Linked DNA regions of Homo sapiens. The protein of the gene in region 1 interacts with the protein of each later gene in a pairwise test. Each region holds a gene or a part of one and is shown on either strand. Other genes may lie near its edges.

The links. Proteins that work in one complex are often made in the same cells at the same time.
Region 2: the proteins of TENM4 (region 1) and LGALS4 interact in binary tests that used the Homo sapiens proteins (3 or more experiments, as listed by UniProt).

Annotation. Positions count from the first base shown.
Region 1 is NC_000011.10:79,437,805-79,446,444, reverse strand, and holds the start of TENM4 (teneurin-4), read left to right. Parts: upstream 1-5,414; 5' UTR 5,415-5,936; intron 5,937-8,640. UniProt on the Homo sapiens protein: Involved in neural development, regulating the establishment of proper connectivity within the nervous system. Plays a role in the establishment of the anterior-posterior axis during gastrulation.
Region 2 is NC_000019.10:38,802,411-38,810,239, reverse strand, and holds part of LGALS4 (galectin-4), read left to right. Parts: intron 1-1,291; coding exon 1,292-1,496; intron 1,497-3,644; coding exon 3,645-3,779; intron 3,780-6,344; coding exon 6,345-6,371; intron 6,372-6,459; coding exon 6,460-6,498; intron 6,499-6,688; coding exon 6,689-6,718; intron 6,719-7,829. UniProt on the Homo sapiens protein: Galectin that binds lactose and a related range of sugars. May be involved in the assembly of adherens junctions.

The sequences.
Region 1 (8,640 bases):
GGCCACCACACCTGGCTAATTTTGTATTTTTAGTAGAGATGGTGTTTCTCCATGTTGGTCAGGCTGGTCTCGAACTCCTGACCTCAGGTGATCCACCCACCTCAGCCTCCCAAAGTGCTGGGATTACAGACCTGAGGCACCATGCCCGGTGCACTGCTGGTATTATTAATTGTATCTGTCCATCCATCCATCCATCCATCCAATAAAGTGTGGTAGCTGAGAACAATCCAAGGTGGACTTTGGCCTTGCCATTTATTAGTTATGTGACTGTATAATTTGCTTAACTTCTCAGTTTTCTGACCCATGGATTAGGGATAATAATTATATCTACCACAAAGTATAGCATTACAATTTAAATAAGATAATGCCTTTTGCTCATCCCCTGGCAAAATGCTCAATGCATGCTAGCTATTGTTGTTATTAGCATTCATTTCTTCACTCAGTGAAGGAATATTTACTAAGAACCTGTAAGTGCCAGTACTTTGCTAAACATTTCAGGATGAGGGGTGAAATGGAGGACAAGCTCCAATCATTTCCCTTTTAGGGAATATGTATGGTGAACCCAAGCAGAGGCTTTCCCCTTATTTTCTATGAGATAATTCAAAAGTCATTGTTAATCACCAAATCCCCAAACACTAGCTTCTAATACCTATAAGACAGAAAGACAACTCACAGGTTAGACAAACCTCACAGAAAGACAGCTCACAGATTAAATGGAGTCAGTCAGACAGAAAATCACCACCAGCCTCACCTCTTGGCTTTTAAAAATGGGGCTATGCTGGGAAAGGCAAGTGGCTTGGGAGTTCTGGAGAGCTGGATTCTGATTCTGATTCGGCTGAGCCAGAACCTCACAAGCCTCAGTGTGTTCACTCTCCCCCTCTAGTTATCACAATTCTATGTGATAACACACCGTGGAAGCTCCAGGGCCACACAGAAGGCTCTTCAAGAATGTCTCTTATTCCTTCTTTTAGTTCTAGCCCCTGCTCTGCCTCTTTGTTTGAACCTCTCTGGGTCCCTCTTCCTCTTGGTGCACACTGGAAGTAGGATTCCAGCAGGCGTGGGTACAAGGATTGAGTCAATCAACAGATGCGGAGGCCCTTTGAAAAGGTGAAAGGGCTATGCTGTGTAAGGTGTTATTATTATTAGGTTGGGGAAATTACCCACAGGGTAAATATTTCTGTGAGACGAAAATCAGAGATGCAGATGTAACCTCACCAGGGAACTATTTACAGCAACTTTTCCAAAGACTGAGACTATCCTCTGGCAGGCACTTTTCTCACCCTCTAATTATGGAAGTTTGATGGCATTTATCAGTAGGTGTCCAAATCCTAAGTAACCAACTTGCATATTTGATGTGGTGTCAGACAACAGGCATGAGGCATTGCCTCTTGCTCCTCAGTGTCTTCTTGCTTTGAAGTACTTACTCCCTGAAACAATTTTATAGTAACAGCTGGACTCTGAAGGGAAGGATTTTTTTTTTGCAAATAAATACATTTGCTAATTAAAACTTGCCCTTTAAAGACTCACATTTTCTTGACCCCACTATATGTTTTCTTTTGCTTGTAACATATCACAGAATCAATAAGGGCAATGCAAACATCTTTAATATATACAGTTTCAACAGCTCTCATAATGTATCTGCCTCCATAAGAATGCCCTCTCCCCCTCTCTAGCCCAGCTACTAATTTCCCCTGATTTGTTAAATGCCTCCTTATTTCACTCTCAGAGATAAAACTCAAAACGCAGTTACTCTTCAGGGGGAGTGGGAACGGTGGATTGAAAAGGGATAAAGTCAGGGGAGGGGGAATGATCATAGCCATGTCTTTGTGTTTTTTTAATGGCAGCTTTAAAAAGTTTTTATAATGGAATAATGAATGTTTATAGTAGGAAGATTATAAAATGCCAGAAAAAGTATAAAGAAGAAAATATATATTACTCATAACCCCATCACCCAGAAGAAAACACGGTTAATATTTGGCATTTTTTTCTTCAGACTTTTCTGCAAGAGGGTTTTTATGTAGCTAACAATTTTGAATTCTCTTTTAAAATATTATATATGACAATACTAACTTTTTTATGGCACGAAAAACTGCAAAAACACTTTCGAGTAGCTGCATAATATTCCAACAAAGGCTGTCCTCCAGTTTACTTATTTTATTTGACCATTTAGGCTGCTTCAATTTTTTTCCCATTATTACAAATAATGTACTGTCATTATATCCAATCTCCTGTTTTTCTGGGCAATACGTAGAGCTGGCTGTTTGGAGGTCTTAGGCTGAATTTTACAACTAGTGTTTCCTATGGCACAGAGCAGCCATATAGGAGAATCTCCGGTTAGCTATAGAGTTAGATTATAACATGGTAGCAACTGACCTTTTTTCCCCCCTCTAAAATGCTCCCTGAATTCTACTTCCTCCTGAATACTCTTGACATCGCAATGAGTAGTACCACCTTCTATTGAGATACCCAAGCTTGAAAACTGAGTGTCACTTTGGGCTTCTCCTTGCTACCCCCATCCAATCAGAAATCAAAATCATCCTCAATCTCTCTCAAATCTCTCCTCCCTTTTCTGGCTTCATTGCAACTGCCTTAGTTTCCCTAAATGACCTACTTTTTCCTGCCTCTACTCTTCCTAAGTCACCCCAGTTAATCCATTTCTCTACACTGCTGCCAAATCATCTTTTGAAAACACACTCAAGATCACATCCTTCCTCTTCTTAAAAGCCTTTATTAACTGTCTACCCTCCTTCTGCCCCAGTACCTGAACTTTCAGGATGTTTGGATCCTTAGCCTCCTTCAGGCCCTGTCAAAATCCAATCCTAGATGCTAGGGACTCATCTAGACTCCTCCAAGACCCTCCCCCAATATGTCCAACTCTGCTATGAGTGTCTCATGCTTTTGTCCATGTCATCATACTATTGCCTGTACCTAAAAAGCATCTCCCCTCCTTTCACGGTCTAGCTAATTCCTTGCCTTCAAAACTCAGCTCAAGGCCAGGTATGGTAGCTCACACCTATAATCCCAGCACTCTGGGAAGCCTAGGGCAGAGGATTGATGGTATTTGAGACCAGCCTGGGCAACATAGTGAGACCTCATCTGTAAAACAAACAAACAAACAAATAAAATTAGTTTGGCGTGGTGTGGTGGCACATGCCTGTGGTCCCAGCTACTCAAGAGGCTGAGGTGGGAGGATCACCTGAGCTCAGGAGGTTGAGGCTTCAGTGAACCAAGATGGCACCACTGCACTCCAGCCTGGATGACAGAGTGAGAACCTGTCATCTCCTATGGGAAGTCTTCCCTTACTCCCAACAATTCCATTGGGCATCCCTCATGATTAGATTCAGGTTATTCATGTCTACCAGGAATATCACAGAAGTGATATGTCCTTCCCAGTGCACTATATCAGGGGCCACTTGATGTCTATTTGTCACATTCCTGCTAATACTGATTTTAATCACTCAAGGTGGAGTCTTTCAGGTTTTCTATTGAAAAGTTACTATTTTCCCCTTTGAAATTAATCAGTATCATGTGGGCAGATACTTTGAACCTATATATATTTTTTGTTTCTCAACATACTTTCACCCACTACTTTTAGCATCTGGGTCTCATTTTTCTCACTGGTCAAATGAAATGCATAGACTGAAAGTGATTTGCAAAATTATCACTCTCAAAGATCCCTTTCTTATACTCCCTGTCTTGGATCTTCTGTAATGAAAGAATTTGTCCACCAAACCAATGTTACTCCTTCAGGTACATGTGTCTCATTTTCTCAGTGTACATTCATGAAACATGCCTACTGAACTGTAAGCTCAGAAAACAGGGCCTGTTTGTCTCACCACTGAATGCCGAGACCTATCACAGCACCTGCCACAAAGTAGGTGGTCAAGAAATATTTGTTGAAGGACTAAATCTAACTGCCAATCACAGCTGATGCCCAGCATTTGATGTCTGCAGTGAGGACACAAAGTTGATAAATGCTATTCAAAGGCAGAGACTTGACATTTTAGTTAATCTCAGAGGCTTTGTCACTGGTCACTGTACACTTATCATAAAGATTTTAAAAATAGATTGGACAGATTGTGTGGAAACTTCCCACCCACCCCAACCCATCCCTGCCTTTCTGAGATGCCCTAGTTATGAGATGTTGAAGGGGCATTCCAGCACCCCACGTTTATAATCTGTGATGCCTTTATAATCAGCATATGGCAACTGGCTAGACAGTCTCCTCACCACACAGAAGAGTTTTCAAAATAGCCTACCCCTCCTTTCACATTTATGTGAAATTAGCATTGTCACATTTCCTCCTTCATTGACTACTTTAGATCAGAGAGACACACTGTAGCAGAAGATCATGAAGGAAGTTGTCTTAAAGAAGGAAACTAACATAAATTAAGCATCTCATATACACCCAGTGCTTTCTTTCCATTGTTCTCTCTTTTAATCCTCACCAAAACTGGTGAAGTCGGTATCATCCATTTTATAGATGAGAAAACTGAAGCCGGGTAAGGGGAAATGGCTCGCACTAAGTCCTTTAGCCAGCAGGCAGCAGGGCTGGAGTGGGAATTCCTCCAGTCTCTTCCCCAAAGCCCTTCCAAGTTGCCACTCAGTCAAACTACCGCTCTCATCACATAAAAATGCCCTTCTCTTGGAAATGTGCTTGCCATCACGATCCAAACATTCGAGGGACAGAAATCTCTTGGACCGCAATCACTGCTATTTTTTAAGTGATTGTTATCACGACTCAGTAGCTGTTACCATGGTTTTGGGGAAGTTGTCCGAGGAAGGAGGGCCTTTCTTTGGGCATCTTGCATGCCTGAAGAAGGAACTCAAGATCTCAGCTCTTAATTACTCTGATTGTGCTGCAGTAGCAACTTGAAAGAGACCGTCCCTAGAAAAGTGTTGGGGTGGGGGGTGTGGAGTAACATCCAGCGAGCAGGCAGAAGGGAGGCCCTGGGCGCCAGAGAGACCCAGGGAAAGGCGAAGAGGAGGGAGAGGGGACGAGACCGTGCTACGGGGAGCCTGGAGAGAAAGCCAAAGGAGGAGGAAAGAACAAAAGGCAAGAGGAGAGGAAGTACAAGAAAGTCCAGAAAGGAAAAGAGAAAGTTTCAGAAAGGGGAAGAGAAAGCAAGCAAGGAGGGTAAAAGAAGAAAGAGACCAGAAAGATACCGAACTGAGAGAGCTCGGAGAACTCGAGAAAGCAAAGGAGGTAAAAGGAGAGAAGATGGAGAAGGCGGCGGAGAGGAAGGGGGAAGGAGACAGAGGAACCGAGACTGGGGTGAGGGAGCGGCCGCGCGTGGCCCCCGGAGAGGCGCCCATCACCTGCGTGGCGCCCCCCCGCGCCGGAGTGCGGCCCTGCTCCCAGCGCCAGTGCGCCGCGCGGCTCGCCGGCCTCGTAGGATTGGCTACCGCCTCCCATTCATGTAACCTGCGTGTGCGTGTGCGTGTGTGTGTGTGTCTCTCTCTCGCTCGCCCTCTCTTTCTGTGTGTAAGAGAGCGAGGGTGGGGGACGGAGGCAGGCAGGCGAGCAGGCAGGGAGGGGAAGAAGAGAAGGGAAGCTATTAAACACACACACACACACACACACTCACACACGCGCGCGCACACACCCGCCCCAACCCCCCAGAAGCCTCGGGATTGCAGCTGTTTCATGTGGGGCAGCAGTGCTGGCAGGGACGCCGGCCGGGAGCGGCCGGGAGCGGGAGCCGGTCGTGCGCGCGCGGCTGGAGGCTCGCTGGGGCTCCGCTCCCCGCGGGAGCTATTGTTGGTCTCGCTGGAGCTGAGCGCAGAGCCCGGACCTGCTCCTTCCTGGGCGCCCCGCTACGGCTCGCGGAGCAGAGGAGCCGCGCCGCCGAGAGAGAGAGGAGCCACCGGCGCGGCGCCTTGCCTCCCTGCCGCCGTCCTCGCCGCTTCCCCGGCGGTAGCAGCCTGCAGCCACGGTAAGGCGGCGTGATCCGCTCTACGGAAAAGCGCCTTGGGGACCGCGGCGACGCCTCGCCAGCTCCATCGCCCTCTGCACTGCTGGCCCGGGCAGGGTTCGGGTAGCTCACGCGGCTGCCGAGGGCTCCGGGAGATGTTTGCTTGCTCCCCTGGCCCAGGAGGAGGGAGGCTAGGGCGCGGGTGGCCGAAGAGGCAAGCTGTTCTGGAGCCTGGAGCCGCCGCAGCCCCCGGAGCCCGCCGCGGACTGGAGCCTGGGAGCAAGGGTTGGGGGAGGGCAGGGAGGTGGGAAGCGGGTGGGAGGGAGGCGGCGCGCCCCAGGTTCGTCTGCCTCTCCCGGATCCCGTTCCCCGCCCCGGCCCGGTCGCCTGCAGCCCCTCTGCAGACTAGCTCGCCCCAGGCCCCCGTCGGGCGCTGGAGGAGCCCGCGAGGCGGCGCCGGGCTTCAGCGGCTGCAGCCTGCCCTGCGGGGCAAGTGCCGGCTGCAGCAGCCCCGCACGGGCGGTGGTTGGAGCTCAGATCCTGGAGATGCGACCCCAGCTCCTCGCCCTCTGCAACCCGCGGGGCGCCCGCCTCTCCTCACCGGGCGCCCGGCCGCGGTATTGATGTTCGTCTAGGAGCCAACTGAGGCTGCAGCCGCCAGATGGACGCTTGGAGGGCTCCCGGGTGTGAGTGTGACTGTATGACTACTCTCACCCCCAGCTTCGGGAAATGTGCTCTGGGTTGAAATGTGATCACCGAGCTCCTCAGTCATTTTAATTGCCATTTTTAAATGCGGTCGTTACATTGGAGGAGCAGACTGGAAGGTAGTGGGGCGGCGTGTGTGTGTGTGTGTGTGTGTGTGTGTGGACACACACACGCAACCGAGGAATACACAACCAACTACTTGGGTGAAGGGCGGGGGGTTCACCTAGTGAGTCCTTCTTGGCGGGGGGGTCGGGCGAGTTAGCTGCCCGCTGCCCGCCCCTTCTCTGCCTGCCCCCGCCTAGGCGAGGTTGGAAAGTACTGGAAATTCAGCTGCGTGGTCCTTAACTTTGGAAATTGGCTCCGCTTTCAGGGCAAAATGTTAAGGCGATTTATGCACCCGCGTCCATGTGGATGAGTGTATTACTGCTCAGTTGGGTGCAGAGCCCTCAACAGTACCGCGCCAAGCCCCCACCCGATCTCTAACTCCCTCCCACCCCCTAACCGTGGAGAGAGGGTTTATAGAAATGCAGTTATCTGTAAACCATCGACGCAGTGAAAGGGGCGCAGGGAGGCAGCCAGAGTTTTGCCTGAACCTGCATACTGGCTTGGTGTTTGTAGCACACGAGATCACCCCGCTGCTTTGTAGAAGGCGGTGGTGGGGCAAGCTCGGGATTCCAATCGCCGGGGTGGGGGGTGGGGGGAAGAGGGTGCCCATGTACTGAGCTCTGAGGCCGAGTAAGGAGAGAGATCTGCTGAGCGGCATCGCGGGCAATTACATAAGCTGCCTCGGTGATTACCCGGAACTGTGATGCGAGCTCCCGGTTCTCGAAAGACAAGCCTGAAAGTTTGCCTGCTTGGGGAGTGTAAGTACCGGGGCGCCCCCACCCCGGCCTGGGTAGCTAGGATACGCCTCGCACCACGGCGCCCACTTGTGCGATGGGCGTCGGGTGCTGATGCTGCTGTCCCCAAAGAACCGGTTACCGAGGCAGGGACTAAGTGGGGGCATCCGGAATTGATCGCAGAGGAGGAGTCAGTCAGAACTGAGGTTTCATTGGGTCTTCAGAGCTCCAAGTCTTCCCTCGGAGGTGTTGGAAGGCCTTCCAGGGAACGCCGTTTTCAGAAACTGACTTGGTGTCCTGGGGAGCCCCAAAGCCCCTCTTTTCCGCCCTTCCTGGGCGCCCCTCCTTGTCTTTCAAGCCCTGTGCCCTTCACGTGTTTAGAAACCTGCCCGCGGTGCCTGGTCCCCCTTGGAGATGCCCAGGCAGCCCAGCCATCCAGGCCCACGCTGGCGAGGGGTTAGAGGGAGTAGAACGCTGGCTCTGCCGGGCTGCCACCCTTACCTACACCTATTCCTGGTTTCCTGCGCTAGCCCGGCGCTGATGGGGACGGGATGGGGCTGGGGTCGGGTATGGCTTCCGTTCCTTCGCCTCTCGCCTCTGCAGACAGCAGTTTGCTTCTGTTGCGTTTATTCTCCCCGTTTCGCCGCTTCCCTCCAGCGCCGCAGCCTGTGTATCACGTTGATGGGCTTTGATAGAGAAACCACAGTAAGAGTATGCTTTTAAATCTTGATTTTCGTCTGTAGGGGGATAAGCCACCCCAGCCCTGACACAGCCGTGGGGAACGCTGAAGTCTGGGACACATTGGCCCTGAACTCCCTTCCCCCCAGCCCGCAGTCAGGAGATGGTGATGTGCATGGGTGGGGAGTGTTTTGTTTTTGCCACATTCCAGCGTCCTGAAACCTCTCGTCCCCTCCCACTGAAATCCCCGATCTGTCTGAATCTGTTCCTTGCTGTAAAATAAATCCTCCCTCCCGCAGACCTGTGGGGCCCTTCGGATTTCCTGCCGCTGCCATGATCCTTAACAATGCGATTGAAAAGCCAGTGCTCGGCTGGAAAAAAATCCCCAGGTGCCAGCCGGCCGCGCCTTGACCTTGCTGAAGGAGCCTTTAACCCGGCTGCCAGAGGGGCTCTGGTCCAGCCGTGGGAATCCAGGAAGAAGGAGGGCGCCCCGGAGGCGGCTG
Region 2 (7,829 bases), on another chromosome or scaffold:
AGTTTGCAGTGAGCTGAGATCGCATCACTGCACTCCAGCCTAGGTGACAAAGGGAGACTGTCTCAAAAAAATTAAAAAGGTGGCCAGAGAAGGCCTGCCTGGGAAGGGAACATATCAGCAAAGAACAGAAGGAACGGAGAGAGGGATCCCCAGGGACAGCTGAGGGAAGGGCCTTCCAGGCAGAGGGAACAGCCAGTGCAAAGGCCCTGAGACAGGCCTGTCCTGGGGAGTAATTTCAAGGATGCTGGTGTGCCCAGGGGTGCGGAATATGATGCGTCATGGGTGTACACAGGGACCCTCTGGCTGCATGAGGGAAATGATCTTCAGGGCCAGGAGGGGAGCAGGGAGACCCAAAGTGCATAGGACAGGGCCTGGCCCGTGGCAGACTTGTAACAGTCATAACTGGAAGTTGGGAAGAGGGTGGAGGAGGTGGTCTAAGAAGGCAAGGTGGGCTGGGTACAGCAACTCACACCTGTAATCCCAGCACTCTGAGAGGCCGAGGTGGTAGGATTGCTTGAGCCCGGGAGTTTGAGACCAGCCTCGGCAACATAGTGAGACCCCATCTCTACAAAAAAAAAAAAAAAAAAAAAAAAAAGCCAGGCATAGTGGCATGCACCTGTAGTCCCAGCTACTAGGGAGGCTGAGGCAGGAGAATCAGTTGACCCAGGAGGTTGAGGCTGCAGTGAGCCACCATCGTGGCCACTGTACTCCAGCCTGGGGGACAGGGTGAGAACACAAGACCCTGTCTCAAGAAAAAAAATGTCAGGCACGGTGTCTCACACCTGTAATCCCAGCACTTTGGGAAGCCGAGGCAGGTGGATCACCTGAGGTCAGGAGTTTGAGATCAGCCTGGCCAACATGGTGAAACCCTGTCTCTACTAAAAATACAAAAATTAGCCGGACGTGGTGGTGCACGCCTGTAATCCCAGCTACTTGGGAGGCTGAGGCAGGAGAATCACTGGAATCCAGGAGGCGGAGGTTGCAGTGAGCTGAGATCGCGGCACTCCAACTCCAGCCTGGGCAACAGAGCAAGACTCCATCTCAAAAAAAAAAAAAAAAAAAAAAAGAAGGAAAGGCTGTGAGCGAAGGTGTGGTGGTGGGAATCTGCCCCCCTCAGAACTCAGGTCCTCTCCACGCTGTGGCCCACAGTGCCAAGGTTGCCCCTCAGAGCTGGTGCTGAGGTCCGGGCCAGGGAGGCCGAGGACAGGGCGGCAGGGAGAGGGCTTCCTGGAGGAGGCCCCCAGGCCCCGGGAGGTGGCACCAGGGGAATGAGCCCTTTGTGTCCCGCCAGGTTCTTCGTGAACTTTGTGGTTGGGCAGGATCCGGGCTCAGACGTCGCCTTCCACTTCAATCCGCGGTTTGACGGCTGGGACAAGGTGGTCTTCAACACGTTGCAGGGCGGGAAGTGGGGCAGCGAGGAGAGGAAGAGGAGCATGCCCTTCAAAAAGGGTGCCGCCTTTGAGCTGGTCTTCATAGTCCTGGCTGAGCACTACAAGGTCTGCATGCTTTCTCTCTTGTTTCCCAAGCTGGAGTGCAGTGGCGCCATCTTGGCTGCTTCCTTCCTTCCCGCCTTCCTTCCTTTTCTTTCTTTCTTTCTTTTTTTTTTTTTTTTTTTTGAGATGGAGTTTCACTCTGTTGCCCAGGCTGGAGTGCAGTGGCATGATCTCAGCTTACTGCAACCTCTGCCTGCTGGGTTCAAGAGCTTCTCCTGCCTCAGCCTCCCGAGTAGCTGGGATTATAGGCGCGTGCCACCACGCTCAGCTAATTTCTGTATTTTGAGTAGAGATGGGGTTTCACCATGTTGCCCAGGCTGGCCTCGAACTCCCGACCTCAGGTGTTCTGCCCTCCTTGGCCTCCCAAAGTGCTGGAATTACAGGCGTGAGCCACCACACCCAGCCCCTTCCTTCTTTTTCCTCTTTTTCCTTCCTCTTTCTCTGTTCTCTCCTCTTTCCTCCCCTCCTTCCTTCCCCCTTCCCTCCTCTCTTCTTCCTTCTCTCTCCTTCCCTCCTTCATTTATTTCCTTTTTCCATCCCCACTTTTTATGTCAACTTCTTTCTTTTCTTTTCCTTCTTTCCTGCCTATTTTATTTTATTTTATTATTTATTTATTTATTTATTTTTATTTATTGATCATTCTTGGGTGTTTCTCAGAGAGGGGGATGTGGCAGGGTCATAGGATAATAGTGGAGAGAAGGTCAGCAGATAAACACGTGAACAAAGGTCTCTGGTTTTCCTAGGCAGAGGGCCCTGCGGCCTTCCACAGTGTTTGTGTCCCTGGGTACTTGAGATTAGGGAGTGGTGATGACTCTTAAGGAGCATGCTGCCTTCAAGCCTCTGTTTAACAAAGCACATCCTGCACAGCCCTTAATCCATTTAACCCTGAGTTGACACACCACATGTCTCAGGGAACACAGGGTAAGGTTACAGATTAACAGCAACTCAAGGCAGAAGAATTTTTCTTAGTACAGAACAAAATGGAGTCTTCTATGTCTACTTCTTTCTACACAGACACAGTAACAATCTGATCTCTCTTTCTTTTCCCCACATTTCCCCCTTTTCTTTTCGACAAAACCGCCATCGTCATCATGGCCCATTCTTGATGGTCGCTGTCTCTTCGGAGCTGTTGGGTACACTTCCCAGACAGGGCGGCCTGGCAGAGGCGCTCCTCACTTCCCAGACGGGGCGGCCGGGCAGAGGCGCTCCTCACCTCCCAGACGAAGGGCGGCCGTTTCCTGCCTATTTTTAAAAATCCTCTTTTAGCGCTTTTCCTTAGTCCCATTACCCTACTGCTGAGAGTCTTGTAATACATTTCATGTGTATTTCCTCCTACCACTTTGTGTTTTTTGCAAAACGTGTACTTTTTGTTTTCCTCTTGAGACTGGGTCTCGCTCTGTTGCCCAGGCTGGAGTGCAGTGATGCAAACAGCTCACTACAGCCTCAACCTCCCCGGGCTCAGGTGATCCTCTCACATTAGCCTCCGGAGTAGCTGGGACTCTAGGTGCACACCACCACGCCCGGCTAATTTTTGTATATTTTTGTAAAGACGGGGTCTTGCTATGTTTCTCAAGCTGGTCTCGAACTCTTGATCTCAAATGATCCCCCACCTTGGCTTCCTAAAGTGCTGGGATTACAGGCATGAGCCACTGCGCCCGGCCAGTGAGCTGATTTTTGACCTTAGCTTGACCTCTGAGCTGTGGACTCCAAGGTTCCTGATGCTGAGGCTGTCCCAGCTCATCCCCAAGACTATCGACTCCCAATGAAAAAGATCCCTGATCCTTGCTTTTTTTTTTTTTTGAGACAGAGTCTTGCTCTGTCACCCAAGCTGGAGTGCAGCAGCGTGATCTCCACTCACTGCAACCTCCACCTCCCGGGTTCAGGCGATTCTCCTGCCTCAGCCTCCTGAGTATCTGGGATTACAGGAGCCCGCCACCATGCCTGGCTAATTTTTGTATTTTTAGTAGAGATGGGGTTTCACTATGTTGGCCAGACTGGTCTCACACTCCTGATCTCAAATGATCCACCCCCCTCAGCCTCCCAAAGTGCTGGGATTAGAGGCGTGAGCCAGGGTGCCCTGCCCTTGCTTCCTGTTTGTACCTTCCCAGGATCATGGGTGCTGACTCCTGACCTCCCATCTCTGCCCTCCAGGTGGTGGTAAATGGAAATCCCTTCTATGAGTACGGGCACCGGCTTCCCCTACAGATGGTCACCCACCTGCAAGTGGATGGGGATCTGCAACTTCAATCAATCAACTTCATCGGAGGCCAGCCCCTCCGGCCCCAGGTGTGAGGGGTCCCATCCCTTCTTGCGTCCTTTCTTTCTAAATTCAGTTCCACATTCATTTTTTTTCTTTTTTTCTTTTTTTCTTTTTTTTTTGAGACGGAGTCTCACTCTGTCGCCCAGGTTGGAGTGCAGTGGCGCGATCTTGGCTCACTGCAAGCTCCGCCTCCCAGGTTCACGCCATTCTCCTGCCTCAGCCTCCCAAATAGCTGGGACTACAGGAGCCTGCCACCACGCCCGGCTAATTTTTTTGTATTTTTAGTAGAGACAGGGTTTCACTGTGTTAGCCAAGATGGTCTCGATCTCCTTACCTCATGATCCACCCACCTCGACTTCCCAAAGTGCTGGGATTACAGGCGTGAGCCACCGCAGTTGGTCTATTTTTTCTTTTTGAGATGGAGTCTTGCTCTGTCTCCCAGGCTGGAGTACAGTGGTGTGATTCTGGCTCACTGCAACCTCTGCCTCCCAGTTTTAAGCAATTCTCCTGCCTCAGCCTCCCAAGTAGCTGGGATTACAGGCACCCACCATCACATCTGGCTAATTTTTGTATTTTTAGTAGAGACGGGGTTTCACCATGTTGGCCAGGCTGGTCTGGAACTCCTGGCCTCAAGTGATCTGCTGGCTACAGTCTCCCAGAGTGCTGGGATTACAGGTGTGAGCCATGGTGCCCAGCGCATTCCACATTCATTTATTTCCCAAGCATCTCCCTCTGCTGAGTTATGCCAAGAGCCCAGTGATGATCAAGGGATCCCACTGGGAAGACAGACCCATCACTGCAAGGGATAAAGGCCGGGATGGGGAGGCCCTGGCTGAAGGGTTGCAGTTGGGTTTGGGCCCAGACAGAGGGATCAGGGCCAGGACAGGAGGGTGGGTGGAGGCAGGCAGAGGGGTCAGGCCCAGGGCTGGAGACAGGAATGACTGAGATATCTCTGGGCCCTGACCTCACTGGGCTCACAGACATGGCATCAGAGAGTGACAGCCCAGAAATGGTCAGGTCTGTGATAGGGAGGGCACAGGCAGAGGGGCAGGGGCTGGGATATGGAGTATACAGGAGGTTTGGGAGCCTACAGGAAGGGCTTGACTAGTCATGGGTCAGGAAGGAAGTGCTTCCTGGAGTAGGAGGAAGTGTGTAAGGTGAGTCAGAAAGTGAGGATAAGGAAAGGCAAAGAACACACGATAGTGAATGAATTCCCTAGAGGTTGCTTAACACAATCATTAAAAATAAATAACATACAATTAAATTGAGTTTATCAATATTATTATTATTATTATTATTATTATTATTATTATTATTATTTTTGAGGCAGGGTCTGGCTCTGTCACCCAGGCTGGAGTGTGGTGGTGCAATCACAGCCTACTGTATTCTTGACTTCCTGGGTTCAAGTGATCCTCCCACCTCAGTCTCCTGAGTAGCTGGGACTACAGGCACGCACCACCAGCCCCAGCTAGTTTTTAAATTTTTTGTAAAGACAGAGGGGAGGAATTTTCCTATGTTGTCCAGGCTGGTCTTGAACTCCTGACCTCAGGTGATCCACCCACCTCAGCCTCCCAAAGTCCTGAGATTACAGGCGTGAGCCACAGCCCCCGGCTTATAAAGCTACGTTTATTTGTTTGTTTGTTTTTTGTTTTTTGTTTTTTTTTTAGATGGAGTCTTGCTCTGTGGCCCAGGTTGGAGTGCAGTGGCATGATCTCAGCTCACTGCACCCTCTGCCTCCCAGGTTTAAGGAATTCTTCCTCAGCCTCCCAAGTAGCTGTGATTACAGGCACCTGCCACCACGCCCGGCTATATAAAGCTACTTTTAAAAGGCCTTCAGAATAGCTGGCTGAGAATAGAAGTCAAGGCAGAATGGAGTTAATTACAAGGAGGAGAAAAGAGAAGGTAACAGAGAGAAAGAGAGAGAGTAAAAGTTAAAGGTGTTAGACTTGGGAGGGTGAGGCGAGCGGATCACCTGAGGTCGGGAGTTTGAGACCAGCCTGACCAACATGGAGAAACCCCATCTCTATTAAAAATACAAAATTAGCTGGGCGTGGTGGCGCATGCTTGTAATCCCAGCTACACCGGAGGCTGAGGCAGGAGAATCACTTGAACCCAGGAGGCAGAGGTTGAGGTGAGCAGAGATCGTGCCACTGCACGGCACCCTGGGCAACAAGAGCGAAATTCCATCTCAAATAAATAAATAAAAGTGTTTGGCAGAAGGAAGCCCCTGCGCTGAGGTGTGGCCAAGACAGAGAGAGAGGCAGAGACACAGGGACAGAGGCAGAAACTGAGATCAAGATCAGCGAGTGAGGGCCCCGGGACAGCAGGAAGACAGCAAGGGGAAGGGCACAGAGAACAAAATGGACCAAGCATTGTCCTAAAGCTTTGGGGTGACTCACTGGGCATCAGCGATCCCAGAACATGGGGTGCCCCTCTCCGTGAATCTGTGATCGGGGTGCCACCCTTTGATGCCAGAGTTCTCTGGCATAGTGGTGGTGGTGGTGGGCCACCCCAGGGCAGGCACTCTCGACATCTTTCAGTCGCAAATCTGGGGACCCTCTCATAACCGCTTTCTCTTTCTGTGCCCACAGGGACCCCCGATGATGCCACCTTACCCTGTAAGTACTTGCTGATAGGTGAGGGTCTTCCTCCCTAGTGGGGTCCCTCAGCCCCTCTCACCCTTCCTGCCTTCTGTCCATCGTTCAGGGTCCCGGACATTGCCATCAACAGCTGAACAGCCTGCCCGTGAGTGGGAGGGCTGGGAGGGCCCCGGGTGAGGAGTGGGAATGGTGAGAATTGGGGTAGGGGGAGCTAAGAGGGGTTGCAGCCCAAGGTGTACTAACCCAGCACCTAGAGAAACGCCGGAGTCTAATGGGTGTGTCATAGATATCTGTCGACTCTTGGAGAATAATATCGCTTCTTCCTCACTTCACAGACCATGGAAGGACCCCCAACCTTCAACCCGGTATGGCTTGGGGAAACAGAGATGGATGGTGGGGAGGGGGCACGGATCTCCAGGGAATCTGAGACAGCCAGAAAGGGAGTGGGCTGAGGGTTTTGGGGTGGGAGGTAGGGGAAGGGTAGATAGAGTTCGTGGTCAGGTTTAGGGAGCAGAAGGAATTGGGGATGTTTTCCAGGAGGAGTGGGACCTCTCAGAAAATTTGTTCTTGGGCTGGACATGGTGGCTCACGCCTGTAATCCCAGCACTTTGGGATGCCAAGGCGGACAGATCACGAGGTCAGGAGATCGATCGAGACCATCCTGGCCAGCATAGTGAAACTCTGTCTCTACTAAAAATACAAAAATTAGCTGGGCATGGTGGCGCGCGCCTGTAATCCCAGCTACTCAGGAAGCTGAGGCAGGAGAATCGCTTGAACCAGGGAGTCGGAGGTTGCAGTGAGCCGGGATCGTGCCACAGTACTCCAACCTGGTGACAGAACGAGACTCCATCTCAAAAAAAAAAAAAAAAAAAAAAAAAGAAAAAGAAAAGAAAAAGAAAATTTATTCTTGGCCAGACACGGTGGCTCATGCCTATAATCCCAGCCCTTTGGGAGGCCAAGGCAGGTGGATCACTTGAGGTCAAGAGTTCCAGATCAGCCTGGTCAACATGATGAATCCCCGTCTCTACTAAAATGACAAAAGTTAGCCAGGTGTGGTGGCGCACACCTGTAATCCCAGCTACTAGGAAGGCTGAGGCAGCAGAATTGCTTGAACCTAGGAGGCAGAGGTTGCAGTGAGCTGAGATTATGCCACTACACTCCAGCCTGGGCGTCAGAGGGAGACTCTGCCTAAAAAAAAAAACAAAATTTGTTCCTTTGTTCCTGCAAGGCTGGGCGTGGTGGCTCACGCCTGTAATCCCAGCACTTCGGGAGGCTGAGATGGGAGGATTGCTTGAGCCCAGCAGTTTGAGGCTGCAGTGAGGCTTGATCATGCCACTGCACTCCAGCCTGGGTGACAGAGTAAGACCCCATCTCTTATAAGAAAAAAAGACAGGAAAGAAAAGAAAAGAAAAAGAAAATTTCTTCCCACATCTGGCTCTGCTAAGCTGAGAGAGAATGGGACCCCCCGTTCTCTTC